Linked DNA regions of Homo sapiens: region 1 is linked to region 2. Evidence: fine-mapped expression QTL. Tissue or cell type: ovary. Region 2 holds a variant in brackets; the other region holds the start of a gene. All regions are shown on one strand. Distances are from middle to middle.

What was found. PIP is the estimated chance that this variant, and not a neighbour inherited with it, causes the effect.
Region 1: it holds the start of PRSS16, and the variant in region 2 is fine-mapped to the expression of PRSS16 in ovary (GTEx, PIP above 0.99).

Annotation. Positions count from the first base shown.
Region 1 is chr6:27,241,615-27,252,328 of GRCh38, reverse strand. PRSS16 (serine protease 16) reads right to left here and starts at 4,628. Exons shown (of 12, transcript NM_005865.4): 1 at 4,522-4,628; 2 at 4,281-4,447; 3 at 3,383-3,482; 4 at 3,100-3,229; 5 at 1,523-1,646; 6 at 1,210-1,287; 7 at 1,065-1,112; 8 at 289-579. The coding sequence starts at 4,591. RefSeq lists enhancers at 48-247, 268-437, 27-547, 818-1,187, 1,328-1,397 and 1 more.
Region 2 is chr6:27,267,742-27,278,455 of GRCh38, reverse strand. It overlaps TRI-AAT9-1 (tRNA-Ile (anticodon AAT) 9-1), which reads right to left and starts at 4,496; the gene lies at 4,423-4,496. It overlaps TRI-AAT3-1 (tRNA-Ile (anticodon AAT) 3-1), which reads left to right and starts at 3,172; the gene lies at 3,172-3,245. It also overlaps the pseudogene CDCA7P1. RefSeq lists a silencer at 1,804-1,974. The variant G/A (reference allele first, on the strand shown) is at 5,279.

The DNA.
Region 1 (10,714 bases), 26 kb after region 2:
GCCAGGCACTCCTGCAGGCCCCCCAAAAGAGAACAGGACAGGATAGGCAAAATAGGTAATAATCGCAGTCTCTAACATTCGCACACTGTGTGCCAGGCTCCCAGCTGATTGCTCTACATGACCCGCCTCATTTCATCTTCCCATCGGCCCTGTGAAGTGTTATCCCCATTTTACAGATGAGAAAACGAAGTTTCAGAGAAGGTTCTCGCTTGCCCAAGATCACACAACGGAAGTGGGGCAGGAATCTTTGTCCGCTAACTCCTCCCAGCTGTGCCAGGGAGTGCTCACCTGCACCGCCCGACGAAGCCCGCAGTAGGGCGTGGAGTGGCTGCGGTTGCCCCCGCCCCCGAGGAGAAGTCCGCAGAGCTGTCGCACGCTTAGCGGCGCTCCCGTCTGCCCATCATACTGCACTACACCTCCCACCAGTGCCTGCAGCGCCCCCAACAGCTCCGCCTGGTTTTCAGCGCGGCCCAGGGGCCCGCAAGCGCTCAGCTCCGTCCGCAATGCTGCTTGAGCCGCCCCACCCGAGCGCAGCCGCCGCTCCACTTCAGCGAAGGCGACGGACACCGCCGCCCGGCACTGTGGGAAGCAAGAGGCGATGTCCGCCAAGACTTAGGCTGGGCCTCGGCTTTCCCTACCCAGGACCTGCGTCCTCCTTGGGTTCCCCACTTTCCCCTAGCGGGACTCAGAGGGTGCAGACCTAGCTCTTGGCCCAGGCCCCCGCCCCCAGGCCCCCGCCCCCAATCCCCTGCCTCGCAGCCCTCCTTCTCGGGTCTTCCCTGCAGGCCCCGTCCTCCATTGTGGCCCCGCCCCACCTTGAGCCTCACCTCCGGATAGGATTGTCCCTGCCCAAACCCCGCCCTCTCTGGGGAGCGCCTCTTTTCCTGGTGCCCCTCCTCTTCGTCAGCTCCCGCCTTCTTCCAAAACCTGCGTATTCCCCCGAGCTCCGACCTTCCTTAGACCCCGCCACGTTGCAGGTTTCGCCCTTCTCTGGCCTCCTCTTCCCTGGCATCCGAGGCCTCTTTTCCCTCCCAGTCCCCCTCGGACTAGGCCCCACCTCCTACCTCCAGGGACCCGCCGATCGCGGTGCTCATTAGGCTTCGGGATACCACCTGTGGGCGGACCGCAGAGGAAGGTATCCGGAAGTGTCAAGGGACTCCGCCCGCTGGGACCCCTCCCCGTCCCGCACCTGCTGCCCGCCATCCTTACGTCATTATACTCGGAGAAATCCAGCACGGCCCGCACCGGGGCGGAGGAGGCGACCGACGCGAAAATGAGATGGGGGAACTAAGGGAGGAGACGCCGTCAGCCTGCGGGCTGAGGGGTTGGAATCGCATATCTTTCTGCCTCTGTGTCACTTACTCGCTGTGTAATCTCGGGCTCTTGTGAGGACAGCTTGTGCAAAATTCTTTGGGCGCGGGAGGAAGGTAGGGGCGTGGTGGGAGGGTATTCCTATTATCTGAGACTGGGGCCCTGGAGTCCGAGTTCCCTCCCCCCAGCCCACCCGGAGGAGTCGCAGGACCTTCAGCCGGGCCCAGGCGGCCAAGGAGCCGGCATAGGAGCCTCCGAAGCAGATCCAGGGGCTGGAGGAGGAGATGTTAAAGAGGCGGGAAAGTGCCAGGCGGGCAGAGACCACATCAGCCAGCCTAGGGTCAAAGGGGGGACTCGGTCGGTCCTCATCGCTGGGAATCCCTGAAGATTTCCCCATTCTGGGGGAAACCCGGATCCAGAGACATGAATGGGTGAATCTGGCCAGAAACCAGGGCCGTTTTCTCATGACGTGTTTCCAAGTGTTCTCCAAGCCACATACACTTCCCAGAACATGTGTGCCTAGGCCAAGGGAGACCCTGTCCTCGTCCACTTTCTAGAAAGCCACCACCCTCTTTCCCTTCTCGTTTTAGGTAGGAGAGGAAAAATTTCCAAGTCAGTTTAGATGAAAACCTGACAAATGTAGGGAAGGGTTGAGGGCACTCAAGGAGGGCTACTAAGAGGAGAAGGAGGGGTCCTAACCTGATGAGTTGCAAGGTATTGGGAGAGAGAACAGACACAAAGAGAAATGGAGAGTGAAGTTTGGATATGTCTAACATCCTCTTTCTCCTCCCAAGGGCTTTCTTTCTTCCCTAACCTTTCTGAATGGCTTGCAGTTGGTACCATCCTGTTGCAGTTAGAAAACCGTTTCGCTTGTAGAAAAGATTAAGATGCAGAGAGACAGAGATGGAGACAAAGAGGCACAGATGTAGATACAGAGACGGAGAAAATGAGACAGGCAAACAGACTGTTACAGACACAGACAGAGATACCAATGAGGAAAGAAAAAGCTAAGTTCTGTAAGAATAAAGCAGATGAAAGAAACAAAAAGCAGGTGAAGTAAAGTTGGAAAAATGGTGGCGGTCGTTAATAGGAGTGAGATGCACTGAAGGAGGCTGGGGTGAGAGGCATAAAAACATCTAGGGGAAGGCCACGCCATGCAGAGGGATGAGTTCAAAGGCTCAAGGCAGGAATGTGCGTGTAAGTCTGGAGGACAGTGAGGACTTCAATGTAGCTGGAGCCCAGTGAAAGTGAGAGAGTATAGGTCAGAGTTAACTAGAGGCCAAAACCCACTGGACTCCATGGCGACTGTAAAAGCTTTGACTTTACTCTGAAGTCAAATACAGTCAAAATTGCTTTACTTCTGAAGCAATACAGAAGATGTCTGAGGGACTTAAGCCAGGGAGGATCATGTCCTGGTTTATGCTCTAACAGAATTACTCTGATTTCCACCTGGAAGTCAAGGGCAGAGCAGGAAAAATGGTGAGAATGCTGTGGCCGTAATCCAGGTAAGGAATGCTGGTGGTCTGCACAGTGATACAGTGGCTTACTTCAGACAGAGACGCAGAAATAGAAAGAACACAGGATAAGAGAAAGACAGATAGGGAGAGTCAGAGACCCAGAAATGGAAAGAGAAAAAACAAGACCCTATGAAACACAGAAGAAAACAGAGGGAACCAGAGACTCAGAGGTTGACTTCAGACAGTGGAGGAGAGAGACACAGATGCAGAGATGCCAAAGCACAGACATTCCTGTCCTTTGACCATAAACACTTTCCCTTCCTCCACTCACGCAAGGCGGCTGGACAAGAAGCGGAGCTGGGCCATTTCCAGGCCTCCAGCAGGTATACTCAGGCCATAAAATCTGTGTTCCAGGCTTATCACCAGGGCGCCCCAGGCTGGGGCCAAGGCTGCGGGATGGCCTGTGAAGAGTGTATGGGTGGGGGGTGGGGAGGTGAGATGCAAGTTGAGTTTAAGCCCTTTCACTCCTCAGGTCTCACAGCATTGCAATATGCAGCTCCCCTTCCTGGTCCCCACCAGCATCCCAACTCCTTTCCCCCAACATTGCCTCTTACCTCTCATCACTGAGCCAGGCCCAAGGCTGCCCTCACCCCCTAGATGCAGGAATATGGGTCCATCCTGGCCAACCCAATGTTGGTCATTCACCCAGTAACGCTGAGAGGTGGGATGGGGAAGAAGAAATGGCACTGTGAGAGTCCTGACTTATTCTCAATTCCTCATTTGTTCCAGTCTCTCTTCCTAATGGATCTTTCCTTATGTACTTAACAGTGTCTGAAATGAGCTTGTTTATTTACTTGCTCACTTTTCCCCTGTTCATCTCCTCATCTAGAATGCAAAATATACAAAAGCAAATTTTTGACCTGGTTTTTCACTCTTATATCCCCAGAACTGAGGGAGTGGCTCTCACATTGAAGGAACTTGCTATTTCTTGAAGTAATAATTGTAAAATAAGAAATAAATGCAGATGGATTTAGGAATAAGATCCAAGTGGGATGATATTTGGAGACTAAATACAGAGGAAGCACTGAAAAATGGCGAATTTGTTCCTTCTTTCGATAGATATCTTTGAGTGCCTGTTGTGAGCTAGGTCTGATTCCAAAGCTGGTTCAAATTTCTGCTACCTACTGAGACCTGGTGGTAGGTTTTGTGTCCAGTCTGGACAGGGACAAGGGGGTAGGGAGGAGCAGTGAATGTGAATGACAGAGAGAAAGAAATGGTGAAGGGCAAGATCTGAGGGACAAAACGAGTGGGACCCCGAGGAGAGGAGAGAGTAAGGCCAAATCTACAAAGGGCAGGAAAAGGGATACTGACAGCAAGCATAACATGAGATTCAAGCAGAGGGATGGGGAGAACTGAGGTGTGGAGAGAGAAAAAAGTGCAGACTGAGGAAGAGATGAGGGAGACTGAGGAGAGGGCAGGATGGTTAGTGGACTCCCCGTCTCCCGGCCTCACCTGTAGGAAGGATCGTCTGTCGGACACGTTGAAGGGGTCCAGCAGTTGCTCCAGCCACCCCACTTTTGGGAGGGCTGCAGCACCTGGCCCCAGGCTCAGGCCCAGGCCCTGGGCAGAGCTCTCCTGAAACTGCTGAATGTGCTCACCCAGGCGCCTAAGAAGGGAGGCTGTGGGACATGGAGGGAAGGAAGTCAGGCTGGCCCCCTTAGGATGCCCTGCTTGACCCTCAGCCTCCTCTTACCTGGAGCCAAGAGTCCCCAGAGGGAAACCAAGAGCAGAGGGCCCAGCCACTGGGCAAGCCAGACGGCCATGGTGTTCGGGACTCTGTTCTCCCCCAGGAGGACCTTTATCTTATCCTCAGCAGCCGGGCCTTAAATCCATCACCTTTCAGCAGAGGCTCAGGTTTCTTTCCTTTCCTGGCAGGTCAAGCGTCTGTAGGAACTGCTAAAGCGGGGCAGGGACGCCAGAGTCTGTACACAGAGGCTGCTGATGCAGCATCGGAACTCCCAGTTTCTTCTCTCTGGGCCTCTCAGTCTGTTCTTCCCTCAGCTCTCAGTAGCCCTCGCTGTCTCAGTCTCCTCCTCTCCGCTCTTCGGTCTACCTTCTCTTTATCTCAGATTCCTCCTTTGCATGCCTTATTGTCCTTCAACCTCTGTCTCTCCCCACCTCAGCACCTCCTCTGGAACCCCAGTTGCCCACTTATTCTCAGTCTTTTCTTTCTGCCCCTCAGCATATCTTCAGTACCCCTCAGTTGTTCCCACACTCAGTCTTTCCGTCTCTTTTTTCTCAGTCCCCCATCTCTTTTTCAGTCTTTCTCTCCATACTCATCTCTTTGTCCCCCAATCTCACCTTGTCTATTTTCCAGCCCCCTCACTTTCTGCTCTGCTTCACTGTCCCGAGCTTCTCTGACCCACAATCTCACACTGTCCATAGACTCCTTACAGTTCTTTGAACATACCAGGCTTGCTTCTGCCTTAGGGTTCTTATTCTTGTTGTTCCCACCCTATGGATTGTGATTTCCCTATATACCCACGTGGTTTGCTCCCTCACTTCAACTGGATCTTTATTCAAAGGTCATTCATTCAGAAAGGTCTTCCATGGTCAGCTTTTTAAAAATTGCCAAACCTATGGCCCTCTTCTATTCCTTTTCAAACTTTATTCCTAATTCTTTTTCATGGGACTTATCACTATGAGAAATATTGTACATTTAAAAAGTTATTCCCATAAATTTAAAAAATATATCCAGAATCTGATGACTTCTCACTACCTTCAGTGCTACCACTGCTGAGCCACCATCATCTCTGACTTGGGATATCATGGAAGGCTTTTAGCTGGTCACCCTGTTTCTGCCTCATGATTTATTCTACACTCAGCAGACAGAGAGACAGAATTAAATATTAGCCCAATCATTCACAATCATTCACTCCCTGGTTTAGAACACTTCCCTGATGCCCCATCTTACTCAAAGTAAATCTAAAGTTTTGAAAACAGTTTTTAAAACTCTGTATGACCTGGCCCCCTGTTGTATATACTGTCATGATTTCATCTCCTACCCCTCCTGGGTTCACTGCTCCAACTGCATTGGACTATTTCATATTTCACAAGACTCACTCCTTCCTTAGAATTTTTGCTCTCCTTAGGATGCTTTTCCTCCAAATATCTGCAAGTCTTATTTTATCACTTCCTATAGTTCCCCATTCATATATTTTATCTTACCAAATGGGTTTTACCTGACCACCCTTATAAATGGCACAACACCTGAGACCCTGTCCCCTGATCCTTCTGTTGTCACTCCCTGATAGTGATGACATTTTATTGCACTTCTCTCCCAAACCATTCCCCAGGAAGTAAGCTTATTCTGGGAAGCAATTTTGTCTGTTTTGTTCACTGGTGTACCCATAACACCCAAACTACTTCAAGGCACTTGAAAGGTTCTCAATGAATATGCAGTGAGCAAAAGGCTATATGGATAAATTGATTAATTAATGAATTAGTTTTCTGCTCAGGAAAGAATTCCCTAAGAATGTGACCTAAGAGTTGAGGCAAGGGAGTGAGTGGGGAGGGAGGAAGGCAGGGAAAAAAATACTTGAGGTAAGAATGAGGAGCCAGGGGGAGCATGAGGTTATCTGGAGTCAGAGGGTTTCTGGCCCAAGAAAGAGCAGGTGCAAAGACTCTGAGTCACAAACCTGCTTGGCACCACCAAGGAACATCAACAGTTAGTGGGCTGGAAAGTCAATGAAGGAATTTGAATTAGATGAGAAGAGAGAAGTAATCAGAGATTCAACCCTGCTGGCAAGCCATAGAAAGGGCTTTGGCTTTTATTTAAAGACTGATATATGGCCGGGCGCAGTTGCTCACGCTTGTAATCCCAGCACTTTGGGAGGCCGAGGCAGCTGGATCACAAGGTCATGAGTTCGAGACCAGCCTGGCCAACATGGTGAAACCCTGTCTCTAGTACAATTACAAAAATTAGCTGGGCATGGTGGGGAGGCGCCTGTAATCCCAGCTACTCAGGAGGCTGAGGCAGGAGGATCGCTTCAACCCGGGAGGTGGAGCTTGCAGTGAGCCGAGATCATGCCACTGCACTCTAGCCTGGGCAACAGAGCTAGACTCCATCTCAAAAAAAAAAAAAAAGGACTGATATGTTGCCGTAAGGGTCTTTTAAAACCTTAATACATAAGTGAATTTAAAGTTGGGTGTGGTGGTGCATGCCTGTATTCTCAGCTACTTGGGAGGCTGGGACGAGAGGGCTGGGAGTTCAAAGCTGCAGTACACTGTGATCGAGCCTGTGAATAGCCACTGCACTCCATATTGGGCAACACAGTAAGAACCTATATTTAAAAAAATGTATTAATAAATTTCTAAATTTATTTTTCGATAAATACGAATTTACTTAGTTGTTTTAATTGCTAGACTGGAAAGACAGGGATGTTTATCCCAACTCAATAATAAGACAAATAGCACAATTGGAAATGGAAAAAGGGTTTGAACAGGGATTTCTCCAAAGAAAATACACCAATGGCCAATAAGCACATGACAAGATGCTCAACATCATTAGTCGTTACTAAAATGCAATTATTATTTATTTATTTATTTATTTTTGGAGACAGAGTCTTGCTCTGTCACCCAGGCTGGAATGCAGTGGCATGATCTTGGCTCACTAAAACCTCTGCCTCCTGGGTTCAAGTGATTCTCCTGCCTCAGCCTCCCAAGCAGCTGGAATTACAGGTGCACGCCACCATGCCCGGCTATTTTGTATTTTTAGTAGAGATGGGGTTTCACCATGTTGGCCAGGCTGGTCTCGATCTCCTGACCTCAAGAGATCCACCCACCTCGGCCTCCCAAAGTGCTGCGATTACAGGCGTGAGCCACTGCACCCGGCCACTAAAATGCAAATTAAAACTATGAGATAATCCTTCATATTGACAAAAATGGCTCTGATAAAGATAGGCAATACAAGCATTGGAAATGTAAAAGGAAACAGCCACTGTAGAAGACTCTTGAACTCTTTTTTTAAAAAAAATCACTTTTGTTAGGTATAATTTACATACCATAATACTCACCTGTTTTTAAGTGTAAATTTTAATTTTTTAAGTAGATTTACAGATTTGTTTAACTATCAGCAGAATCCAGTTTTAGAACATTTTCAGTAACCCCCAAAAAGTCTCTTCATGCCTATTTGCAGTGAATTCCCATTTCTATTCCTAGCCATAGACAACCATTAATCTATTTTCTCTATATATTTATTTTCCTTTTTTGAACATTCCATATAAAAGGAATTCTACAATACATGCTTTTTTATGTCTGGCTTCTTCCACTTAGCATAATGTTTTTGAGGTTCATCCATGTTATAGCAGGTATCAGCATTTCATTTCCTTTTATGGCTGAATAATATTCTGTTTTATGGATATACTATGTTTGAGCTATCTATTAATTGGTTAATGTGCATTTGGTTTATTTCCTCTTTTTGCTATTATGGCTAATGCCACTATGAACATTTGTGTACTAGTCTTTTTGTTGAGATACATTTTCATTTCTCTTGGGTAGATACCTAGATGTGGAATTACCAGAGCATATATTAAAATCAAATTTAACTTTTAAAGAAATTGAACTGAACTGTTTTCCAAAGTGGCTATACCATTTGTTCATGTAATTTCTTAGACTCCAGAAACCTGAACCAAACAGGTAGAAAGTCTCCAATTTCGAACATGAACACGCTGGAAAAGTGAGAACTGAAATACGCCAGGAAAAATCATTGAATAGAGAGGACCAGAGGCTGCCAGATTATCCCTTCAGGCATGAAACTGAATCTTTTTATTGTGGGCAGTGGTGCCTGCTGCCTGAAGTTCAGCGGGTCAGACCCCTGGTGAGCATAGACATGATGTCCTTCAGGAGGGTCAGAAATTTCCGTGGATTACGCAGTCAGAAGCTGCAGGTTTGAAAACGTCTGCATCCTTTGTCTACTCCATGAGTAAGATTTAAAACCAAGTTTGTTTGTTTTAATCGAAAATAGATTATTCTTTTTATTGAGGCAGCGGTGGAAGGTGGGAAGGGACTTCTTTCCGGTCTAAGATTATCTACGAGAAGAATGTTGATGAAGTTAATGTTTTCGAAGCAAAGACAAGTCAGTGGAATGATTGGTAGCTTAGTTGGGCTTGAGTGTGGTTCTAGTGCCCAAAAAATTGTGGGTTTGCTTCCAGTACCCGTAACTTCTCTATGGTTTTTGTTCCTCTGAACTGTTCTTAGCAGAAGTCATCTCAATTTGAGCAGTAAAACAAGGGATAAATTATGATGCTCTAGGAAGCTTTAAATCCATCCCCTAGATTGTTTTGCCTTTTTAAACCATTCGCAGCCCAACAGATTCATGATCATCCGCAGGCAGGACACTAGGGCGCTCACTTATTTCAATCCCCCGCGCCCCATCCAGCGCGCTTTCATGAACTTCAATCAACCGTTATAAACAAATTGCGAAATCCACCTGATAACTAAGGGCATCTTTTGACTTGTGTGAGCGAGTTTCCACGTGATCTTGATTTCCTCTCAGCCCTTCACTCTGTCTCAACAGTCTGGACTTCCTGGCGCTACACAGAGAAAGGAGACCCATCTGTTTAAAGTGACACTGTCCAAAAGATATTTCCCATATCTTCCCTCCATCCTTGCCTTTTCCTTTGGGAGTTTAACTTTTTTCAGAGATCTCCTGCCCTCTTCTTGGGGCCACTTTCTTAGTCACTCCCTTTTGCTATGAAGCTGTTGCCTTCTTCTCCAGAACCTCAGGCACTAGTGGAAGGAATTTGAATTCAAGAAACTCCTGGTTATCTCGCTGTTTCTGGTCTGCATCTTTCTAGTGCCTACAAGTGACCTGAAAAGGAATCAAGACTCCCCAAAATGAACCTTGGAACTCTCATGACGTCTCTGCTAGGTTAGCTTCTGTCTGGGAGAGACTGTGAGGTTGAGACAGGTCCAGGTGTGCAGGTGGTAATGACGGGTAGCGTACTGGGGCCGTGGAGTGAATGCCCAGTGAGGATAGAATAGGTCTTTAAATGCCTTTCTGTTCTGAGTCAGTCATATGTTTGTTTCAGGTCTATGCTGTATATGTGAAAATTTCATTATTGATTAATCTGGTTTTTTAAAAATATAGTTGACTCGCCAGGCGTGGTGGCTCGTGCCTTTAATCCCAGCACTTTGGGAGGCCGAGGTGGGTAGATCACGAGGTCAAGAGATCGAGACCATCTTGGCCAACATGGTGAAACCCCGTCTCTACTAAAAATACAAAAAATAGCTGGGCGTGGTGGTGTGCGCCTGTAGTCCCAGCTACTCGGGAGGCTGAGGCAGGAGAATTACTTGAACCCGGGAGGCGGAGATTGCAGTGAGCCGAGATCATGCAACTGCACTCCAGTCTGGCGATAGAGTGAGACTACATCTCAAAAAAAAAATTATATATATATAGTCCCAAATCAACTGACATGCATTACTGTCCTTTTTCTTTTAAAATGTTTAGCTAGAAGTGAGCTCCATTTTCTTGCTTCTAACTGAAACTTATTTTCATGGCAGGGCAGACGCTCACAAAGGTGCTCAGAAGTAAGACTTTTGTTTTTTTCTCACAAATTCGAAATGATTTGGGATATCATGAAAAGCCTTTTCACATAACACTGTATATGTGCCGGGTCCGACCCGCAGACCCTGACTGAACATCGGATGAAAAAATGCACTCAGACACAGATATCCAATGAAAGAGCAGGCTAGGGGACCGGGCGTTCACAGAAGGAGTTGTTGCATCCTGCTTGCACACACAGAGGAGGGTGTTCTAAAGATTACGCAGCCCGGCCCTGACAAGCTGGCCCTGCGGGCATTTATTCAGTACAGATTTAATGGCAAAGGCTTTGAGTCAACACACTTGTGGCTAATTAATATGGTCACCCTCCCTGGAGAGAGCA
Region 2 (10,714 bases):
ATCCTTCATTTCTCTCTGATCTCATCTCTATTACTGTCTCCCTCTCTTGTACTCTGGCCACATGAACCCTTTTACTGTTCCTCAAACATTCCATGCAAGTACCCACCTTTAGACTTTTATAGTGGTTGTACTCTGCTTGTGACACCTCACATGTCAGGTGGCTTGATTGCTCCTTTTCTTCCAGTCACAATCTTATTAAGGCTATACTAACAACTCTAGCTTTCCAACCTACTCTCATCACTCCAGTTCTTCCTACCTGCCTCTATTTACCAATCACATTTAACACCTTCTTACACATTTTATAATTCACATTTTTATTATGTTTGTTATTTATATCTGTTTCCATACTCTATGAGGGCAGATATTTCATTGGCCCGGTACTAGTGATGTGTTGCTATAGTTCCCTGATGCCTGTCAAGTGTCTAGAACTGGACCTGTGCGGTTGTTACACAAAGTTAAAGAGATCTTTTTAAAACGTGAATCTGGCTGGGCGCGGTGGCTCTCACCTGTAATCCCGGCACTTTGGGAGGCCGAGGCGGGTGGAACATTTGAGGTCAGGAGTTCCAGACCAGTCTGGCCAACATGGCGAAATTCCGTCTCTACTAAAAATACGAAAAAAAAAAAAATGGCTGAGTGTGGTGGCGCATGCCTGTAATCCCAGCTACTGAGGAGCCTGAGGCAGGAGAATCGCTTGAACCCGGGAGGTGGAGGTTGCAGTGAGCTGAGATCGCTCCACTGTACTCCAGCCTGGGAGACAGAGTCAGACTCCGTCTCAAAAATAAATAATAAACAAATTTTAAAAATGTGAATCCGTCCATGTGACTTTTCTGCCTAAAATCCTTGCATAGTTTCCCATTGTTGTTAAGACCAATTCAAAAATCCTTAACTTGGCCTATAGTGATCATAGTTCTTAGTTTAGACTTAATGTAGATCAATTAACACCTGATAATTCCTTTTTTATTTTTATTTATTTATTTTAGACGGAGTCCTGCTCTGTCGCCCAGGCTAGAGTGCAGTGGCGCTATCTTGGCTCACTGCAAGCTCCGCCTCCCAGGTTCACGTCATTCTCCTGCCTCAGCCTCCCGAGTAGCTGGGACTACAGGCGCCCGCCACCAAGCCCAGCTAATTTTTGCATTTTTAGTAGAGATGGCGTTTCACCATGTTAGCCAGGCTGGCCTCTAACTCCTGACCTCAGGTGATCCTCCCACCTCGGCCTCCCAAAGTGCTGGGATTACAGGCGTGAGCCACCGCGCCCGGCCAATTTATTTTTAGTGCCCCATCCACTTACCATCAAGTATTCTGATTCATTTATAGTAATCTACTAGAGGGTTTTGCATCATGTATTGATAAATGTTCTTTCTTCCTCAGACTTCATCTCCTACTACTCGCCCTGTACCACTCTGCAGCTCAGTCTTAATCTCCAGACAGAATGACGTGTCTTAGTTCCTGTCCCTCAGGTGTTTCTGCCCGTGTTGTACTCTCCTAGGTGCACAAAATAAGGCCACTGTTGGCTCCTTCTCCGTGCTGTCCCCTCAGCCCCTTCCTTCTCCCGCCTGATTCTATCACATTCCCTTTACGTCATTACTTGTACCCCCAAAACAATGTTCCAGAATCTAGTATGCCCCAACTAGACAATCTACATACCGATTGCCTAGTTTCGCTTCGAATTTGTAGCAGGGAATTCAGGAAGAAGGTGTAGAAATGTGTCCAGGATTGGCCGGGCGCAGTGGCTCACGCCTGTAATCCCAGCACTTTGGGAGGCCAAGGGGGCGGATAACCTGAGGTCAGGAGTTCGAGAACAGCCTGGGCAACACGGTGAAACCCCGTCTGTACTAAAAGTACAAAATTAGCCGGGAGTGGTGACACATGCCTGTAATCCCAGCTACTCGGGAGCCTGAGGCAGGAGAATCGCTTGAACCTGGGAGGCAGTGAGCCGAGATCGCGCCATTGCACTCCAGCCTGAGCAACAAAAGTAAATCTCCGTCTCACCGGAAAAAAAAAAAGCAAAAGAAAAGAAATGTGTTCAGGATCATATTAGTGCTAAGTATAGTTAAAACAAACAAGCAAGCAAAAAGAGTATTGGGATCAACCCTCTAAAGCACAGTGTGACAATGGCCATCAAAATTGCCAATGTACATGTTCTTTGATGCAGCCTTTCCACATGTGCGAAGTATCATGGCATACATCAGATACGGTGTATGCTCATAGATACCAAAAATTTGCAATAGGAGGATGGAAGTCTAAGCTATGCCTATTAAACTATGGTATATACTCATATAGCTGAATACTATGCATATTTAAAAGAGAATGAACACTTTTCTGTTGTGATATGAAAGAATTGCAAAAATATATTCTGAGTTAAAAAAAAAGCAAAGGATTTAAAAAGTAGATAAAATGCCACTATTTGTGAAGAGAAAAAAGAAAACATTTGTTTAACTTTGGCTATGCGTTAAAAATCTCTGGAACGATAAAGAAGATATTAAAAACAATTGTAATATTTTTAGGAGACAATGGCTGGGTAGAAAGATCGGTTTAACCGTCCCTGAAGGGTGAGTAGAGCCACATTTCTAGAATTCTCCAATACCAAGGTCTTCAAAGTGGGCTTTGATTTGAGGTCACTCTGGAAATCTGAGGCAACAGGTAGGGAAACTTCCAAATGGAGGCTCCGGGCATGAGAAACCTGCCTGGGACGATCTCGACGGTGGGACCATCGAAAACAGACTCGTCGGGAATATCCTTCAGGTGCCAATTTCTGGGTTGTGTTAGTGAACGGCTCTTACAAAACAAGGACTCGCTAATATTTCACCGAGTCTGATTCATTGTCTGCACGTACTGATTACCAGACATTTAGAAAGCAACAAATGTTTCCATGGATTCCTGGACTATTCGCCGCAGTTTGAAATTTTTAAGCGTCCTCTTTCAACTCTAGGAACACGGCTTAAAAAATAAAATAATAAAAATAAATAAATAAAAAATGTTATTTCCTTGTTTTGTTTTTGTTTTAAGAGAAAGTTTCTCATTCTTTTTATTAAGAATCTAAAGCAACTAAGAAATTGTTTCTTCTTGTGAGACAAACAAGAATTATATTGCTGAATTTAATGCTTTCCCAAAAAAGGATGAGTGTCGAGATTAAGGGCGGGGGGTGGGGGGGGAAGAGCTGCACCCAGCGTCGGCTGGTTAGCTCAGTTGGTTAGAGCGTGGTGCTAATAACGCCAAGGTCGCGGGTTCGATCCCCGTACTGGCCACGTATTTTCCCCAGTAGTTTTTTATGGCAGTTCTGCAGAAACTCGTCGGTTTTCAGCCAGCGAAGGGCTACGGATAATTAACGATGCAAATCGTCGGTTTTCAGCCAGTGAAGAGCTGAGGGTAATAAACAATGCTCTCAGATGGTCCAAATTCGCTGCCATCATTTCTTAATCCATCTGAATTCTAACTCCATTCCCGAATCACCCAAATTTCTACATCTTCTCAGGTAAAGTTCTTATTCTTTTCCACTAGGTGTTAGGGCTGGGGACAGAAAGCTGTTCAGGGCAGAGGACCCAAGATTGGGAGCTCTGCCTAATGAAAGAAAAAAAAAATTAGAAGATTACTGGCTTTTTAAAAATTATTTAAATGAAGCTTACTTGATTTCAAATTGTCCTCCCAAATTGCTCCTGAAACCAACCTTCTTTCTCAAATTGGCAAGAGATACAAGATAGAGAGAACAAATTCTTAGGAGATTGTTATTATATGTCTCTGAAGACTTTTTTAGATTTAACTGACAGAAAAGATTGCCCTGAGAGGAAGCTATCGCTTTGAACATGGAACACAGACTTGGTGTGTTTTGTTTTGTTTTGGTTTGGTTTCTTGTTTTGTTTTTAGGAAAGGATGAGCTAGAAAGGAGTCGAATCTAGCCTCTTGTGATTAATAAACATGCACCTTGCATACTGCTTCCAACTTGAAAGGGCAATTCAATATTTCTTCTCTTTATCTTGTATCTCTTGTCAATTTGAGAAACAAGGTTGGTTTCAATAGAAATTTGGAAGGACAATTTGAAATCAAGTAAGCTTTATTTAAATAATTTTTAAGACGCCAATAATCTTCTAATTTCTCATTTTTTGTTTCCTTCGGCAGGACTCCCGATCTTGGGCCCTCTGCCCTGAACAGCTTTCTGTCCCCAGCCCTTACACCTGGAAGAAAAGAATAAGAACTTTACCTGAGGAGATGTAGAAATTTGGGTGATTCGGGGATGGAGTTAGGTTTCAGATAGATTAAGAAATGATGGCAGGGAATTTGTACCATCTGAGAGCACTGTTAATCACCCTCAGCTCTTCGCTGGCTAAAAACCGACGAGTTGCATTGTTAATTATCCTTAGCTCTTTGGTGGCTGAAAACCGACGAGTTTCTCTAGAACTACCGAGAAAAAGTACTGAGGAAAATATGTGGCCGATATGGGGATCGAACCCACGACCTTGGCGTTATTAGCACCACGCTCTAACCAACTGAACTAACCAGCCAACATTTTGGGTCTCTTCCCCCACACCACTCCCCCTCCCCATTAATCTAGACCCTCATCCTTTTTTGTGGTGAAAGCATTAAATTCAGCAATATAATTCCTGTTTGTCTCACAAGGAGAAACAATTTCTTAGTTACTTTAGACAATTCAATATCATATTACCTCTGATCATTCTGGGTAGTCTTTTCTGTCCTGTATAGGTTCCATACCTGCACATACTCATGAATATTAAGCTGAATACTTCAGAAGTTCTTTCTGGAGTTATCTCTTATTACAGCTCTCTTCTTTCTGGTATGCTATCATATTCACTCTAGCTGCCCCAGTCTCCCAGTCTATCAACTCCTCATCAACTCTGGGAGTCCACCAGGCTCTGCTTGGGTTCTGCCTTTCTGCATTGGGGCCTGGAAATTCAAGGCCTTAGTTAGGGGCTAATCCTACTGTTCACCTCCCCCTCTCTCCAATCATTCATTTTTTCCCCTGTGATTAGGGGTTACTATTCTTCCTTACCAAATACTGTATGTCTTGAAAAGTGTCATTTCATCTTTTTTGTTAGGTTTTGGTTCTTTACAGCAGGAATGTAAATCTGATCCCTGTTATTCCAACTTGACTGGAATCATCTCCCAGTTATTTGGAGGATGAAGAGCTATTTGGAGGAGCTATTTTCTGCTATGGGTTGCAGGCTTTTGGCACCAGAGAGGACCCTGTTATTATATAAGTGCAGCGGCCTGTCTTCCAGGGCTGTCCGGAGATCTTGGAGCCTCAGGGTTCTTGGGGCAAGCAGAT[G/A]TTGAGCTGTGTCTCCAGGCTCCGACTGGGACAACATGTCTGAAGAGTTCAGGCTACAAGCCCCAGGGTGGCTAAATTGCCTGCTCTTCTTTTGGGTTTGCCCTGGAATGCTCTGTTTGACTGATTGGAGTGGGCACAGAGGTAGAGAGAGAGCTTGGGGGAGGGCAGGTTCTGGGACTAGGGGTCTGGAGGGTCAAATGTAACTAAAATGGGCATTCGGATCTCTGCTGGACATGAACTGGTACGTGGCATCCACGCACTTTTTCTTTATTTGTGCCCTGTAGCCACCAGTAGATATCCTTCACCTGAGGAAATTGGAACACCTTCGCCTCGGGGCTCTATGGGCATCTTCTGGTAAGCGAATCTGGGTGGTCCTCCCAGCTTCTGTACCTAGGAGTCCCAAGGGTGATTGCCATCTGGCACAGCCTAGGGGATTGCGAATGGATGAATGGGACCCGCCCAGAACCTGAGTTCCCCACAGCAAGTCCGCTCAGTCCCTGTCTTAAGCCATCCCTGTCCTTCCCCACAACAGAGGGTACGGAGACCAGTGATCTGTGTGAACTCGCTTGTGGACTAGATGATTTTTGATAAGTTGTTCGCTGATTACCTTTAAATTACCTTTCTTGTAAAAGTTACATTCTACCTCTATCGGTGGTGGTGTTAGAAAGAGTTGCTTGTGTACATCTTTAAAAGCTGTTTTGTTTGAAATTCTCAGGAGATTGAGTATCCTAGTTGCTTTTATTATGGCATAAATATTTAGCCACTAATTCAATTATATCTTATGTTATTTATACTAAAATTATAAAATCCTAGTAACCCTACAATTGTATCGAGATAAGAAGGCTTTTGTTCACCATTTCAAACAGTTAACGTTCTAATTTTAAAGTGTATTTGGAGAAATTGAATTTAGCATTTTTATTATATTCTCTGAGAACTTCTTTAGTTTCACTGAGAATCATTTCATGTATCTGATTTTGTAAATCAGTTACCCTTTTAAAAAATAACAATTTTTCACTGTATTTGTCTTTTTCGTTATTTTCTCTATGAACTAGCTAATACGTCTTATTTATTGGAAGTAATATAAAGTTTCCTTTTAGGTATAAATCCATATTCCAAGCACACTTGCATTTTTTTCAGTGAAAATTTTAAAAAGAGAGAACAGAAATAAATCTATATAAGAAATATGTGGGCCGGGAGCGGTGGCTCACGCCCGTAATCCCAGCACGTTGAGAGGCCGAGGCGGGCGGATCACGAGGTCAGAGGTTGAGACCAGCCTGACCAACATGGTGAAACCCCGTCTCTACTAAAAATACAAAAATTAGCGGGCCGTGGTGGCGTGCGGCTGTAGTCCCAGCTACTCGGAAGGCTGAGGCAGGAGAATTGCTTGAACCCGGGAGGCGGAGGTTGCAGTGAGATAGGCCACTCCACTTTCCACTCCACCACTCCAGCCTGGGCGACAGAGCAAGACTCCGTCTCAAAAAAAAAAAAAAAAAAGAAAGAAAGAAAGAAAGAGAGAGAGAGAGAGAGAGAGAGAGAGAGAAAGAAAGAAAGAAAGAAAGAAAGAAAGAAAGAAAGAGAAAGAAAGAAAGAAAGAAAAATATGTGAGTGGATTTAGAGAAATTATATTCTGTAAATCAGACAGTGGTCAACTTACAACTATTTTCCCAGGTGGTTGAGACAAAAACACTTAGATTCCACCTCTACCAAACAACTTGATTAATGCAAAAGAAAAGGAGAATGCCAACACAGGAACTCTGCCCAGAAACTAAATCAGCAGAGACGTCAGGTTAACAAACTGTTGACAGTTACCCACCTCCAAAAAAGAACTTCTCATTGTTATAAAGGTGCTTAAAATCTAAACATGAACCCTGTGCCTAGCCTACAATTTTTTCAAGAAACTGCAAAGAACCCTACACTAGTTATTAATATCAAGTTTCCACCCAAAATGGCCCAAGAATTTGTTTGAAATACTTAACATGTGAACTGAAATAAACTTGGCAAACTACAATTATGATGATTTTTGTTTTTTTTTTTTTTTTTTTTTTTTTTTTGAGACAGAGTCTCGCTCTGCCGCCCAGGCTGGAGTGCAGTGGCACGATCTCGGCTCACTGCAATCTCCGCCTCCCGGGTTCACGCCATTCTCCTGCCTCAGCCTCCCGAGTAGCTGGGACTACGGGTGCCCACCACTAAGCCCGGCTAATTTTCTTCTATTTTTTAGTAGAGACAGGGTTTCACCGTGTTAGCCAGGATGGTCTCAATCTCCTGACCTTGTGATCCGCCCACCTCGGCCTCCCAAAGTGCTAGGATTACAGGCGTGAGCCACCGCGCCCGGCCATGATGAAGTTTTATACCAAGAATTCAATGAGCCTACGCCTAAAGTTTCACCATTGTAATTTCCCAGGATGTCTTTCCTATATGGTATAGGAAAGACATCGAAAGATATCCTGGGAAATTACAATGGTAGTACTTTATATGACATATATGATAGACATATATGTCTATCATATATAGACTATATATATGATAGTCTATATAGGCTATATATGATATATCTCATATATATCATATATATCTCATATATGATATATATCATATATATCTCATATATGATATATATCATATATATCATATATATCTCATACATGATATATATCATATATATCATATATATCTCATACATGATATATATCATATATATCATATATATCTCATATATATCATATATATCTCATATTTGGTATATATCATATATAGTCATACATAGGCTATAAATATGATAGACATATATATCTATATATATCTATATTGTAAGTATAACACTGCCCACAAACCTTTGGATCATGATTGTGTAAGGGAGATGCTACACTTAACTTTAAGGCAGAAGAAATTAGCAGCAACTAGGACTCATATGTGACAACTTGTATCATAAGCACAATACATGGAATATATTCATGAGAGGCATCTGAAGTAATATGCTACACTCTGCAACAATTACCTAAGTTTCCCACATGGTTTTAAGACTTTTGTGCCTCGATTCTGTTAAAAATATCAACTAGTATAAACACTAAATCATATCCATTGGTTTTTTGTTTTTTGTTTCTTTTTGAGATGGAGTTTCCCTCTTGTCACCCAGGCTGAAGTGCAATGGCACCATCTCTGCTCACTGCAAACACCGCCTCCTAGTTTCAAGCGTTTCTCCTGCATCAGCCTCCTGAGTAGCTGGGATTACAGTCACCCACCACCAGGCCCAGCTAATTTTTATGTTTTTATTAGAGCCTGGGTTTCACCATGTTGGCCAGGCTGGTCTTGAACTCCTGACCTGAGGTGATCTGCCCGCCTCTGCCTCCCAAGTGCTGGGATTACAGGCATGAGCCATGGCTCCCAACCCACATACCCATTGTTTTTGCATAAACAAGTTAGAGGGCTGTTCTCTGAAATTCAATAGATATAGTTAATTAATACTACTACTGTGTTTTTAAGTGCTTAGGTTTCATGAGTGGACTGCAGGGCTATTTCAACTGCAACTAAATCAAATATGCTTTCATAAAATTGTCATTTAAAAAGACTTCAGAAACTAAGCAGGGGGAGAGGACCATTGGAAAGAGAAAAGGGTACTATGAATTGGAGGTTGTGGGGAGCAGAGGAGAAAACTGTAGGAGGGGAAAGTATAGCCAGCAATATTCGTTTAGTGATGCTCCAGAAACACATGTCTCTACTGAGATTTATCTTGATTGGAGCTTCTTATAAAGAGGCTGATTGTCAAGATTCTTGATGGAAGGTTTTTTTTTGTTTTTGTTTTTGTTCTTGTTTTGCTTCTTGATGGAAGTTTCTTATAAAACAGACTGATCACCAAGATTCTTAATTCAGGTTTCAAGCAATGACAAAATTGAAAACTTCAGCAAGAGAGATTTGAGAAGTGGAAGACAGGCAGTGAATTTTCCAATATTATGCTTGCATTTCAAATTCCTGTTTCAGACTTTTCAAGTAAGCATGCACATTCCCAAAGCCATTGTATTTGGCTAAATATTCAAGGACCCCAGTTTCCCACAGTCTATCTCGCTGCGAGCGGAAACTGCAGTTGCACGGCCTCGACAAGGCGGACAATGCCAGTTCGCATCCAGCAGAGTATTCCTGACCTCTTCACCACAAGGGTTTCTAAGGTCGGGGCCGCAGAACAGGCCTTGAAAGCCCCAACAGTCTGGGTTTCTGCAGTTTGTTTGATAACAATAGTTTTCTGGCGGCATTGATGACAAATAGAACCCAGCGAACGGTTATATATCTTCTCTTGAGAGTTGCTGCAGATGTTCTCCAAACCTTCCTCTGTAATTTCTTCCGGTGGCCGAATTATATGTGGAAGGATCATGGGTGATCTGGCGGGACGATTTCTGAGCATCTCAACTTCGTTCATGTAGCCGTCCACAATCTTCCTCTTTCTCACCAACATGTACTTAGCCTCTGTCTTTTCTTCCTTCTCTTCCGTAGGTAGAGCGCCAAGGGACCCGAGGATCCTGACCTTGACCTCTAAGAGGCCGAGCTCTCTCCATTCAGAATGTCTCCTTGAAGAAACATCCAGGAATGTTTACCTTGGGGTCTCCTTGATTGTGAGTTGGGGCCTGGCGGGGAATGTCTTCCGGGGAACAAACCAGAGAAGCTTCTAATACTGACATGCGTTTTACAAGCATTGCTTTGTTTTGCTTTATATTTCAAGCCCTTTCCTCAAACAAAACAAAACAAAACAAAACAAATTCATGGCACTTTCATCTTCTGAATCGGAATTGGAACCAGTCATAGAATTCCTTGAGGGTTTGGGGTACTCTGCTTTTTTATTGGCTGCTCCCCTGGTGTTTCGCCCTGGAAACTTCATCGCCTGCCTGAGAAGTCCAGAGTGTCTGCACTGGCTGCTGGTCCAGCAGCCTTCCTGGACTGACTGAAGCCTCGTGTTTGCAAAATTATCAGAAGCAAAGCTGTCATAATTGTCATGAGAGGATGACGAGGTTTCCATGGGAATCAACTTCACATATCGAATTTAAGATCGTCTTTACTCTGAGATCCTTTTGCGGCACGCGGAGAGCAGCCTTGCTGGCAGCGGAACTCTTGGTCTGCGCTTGGAGCCGGGAGAGCACGGTAGCGGCGCGCGTAGCGGTCACACAACAGGAGGAGCGGGAGGCGTGTGAAACTTCTTTATGAGAGAGAGAAAGTAGGAACCACCTGAATGCCCAACAAATGAGGTCTAGTTAAATAAATTATGCTACGCTATAGAATCAAATAGCTAAGATAAGGCAGACCTTTAGGTATAAGTGTGTTTGAAATGTGTCCAAGACATATTAAGTTTAAGGAACACATAACATCATGTCTATTGGGCTTTATTTATGCAAAAATATAATTACAAATATGTAGATAATTTCACATAGATGTAGATAAGGGTTGAAAGGATAT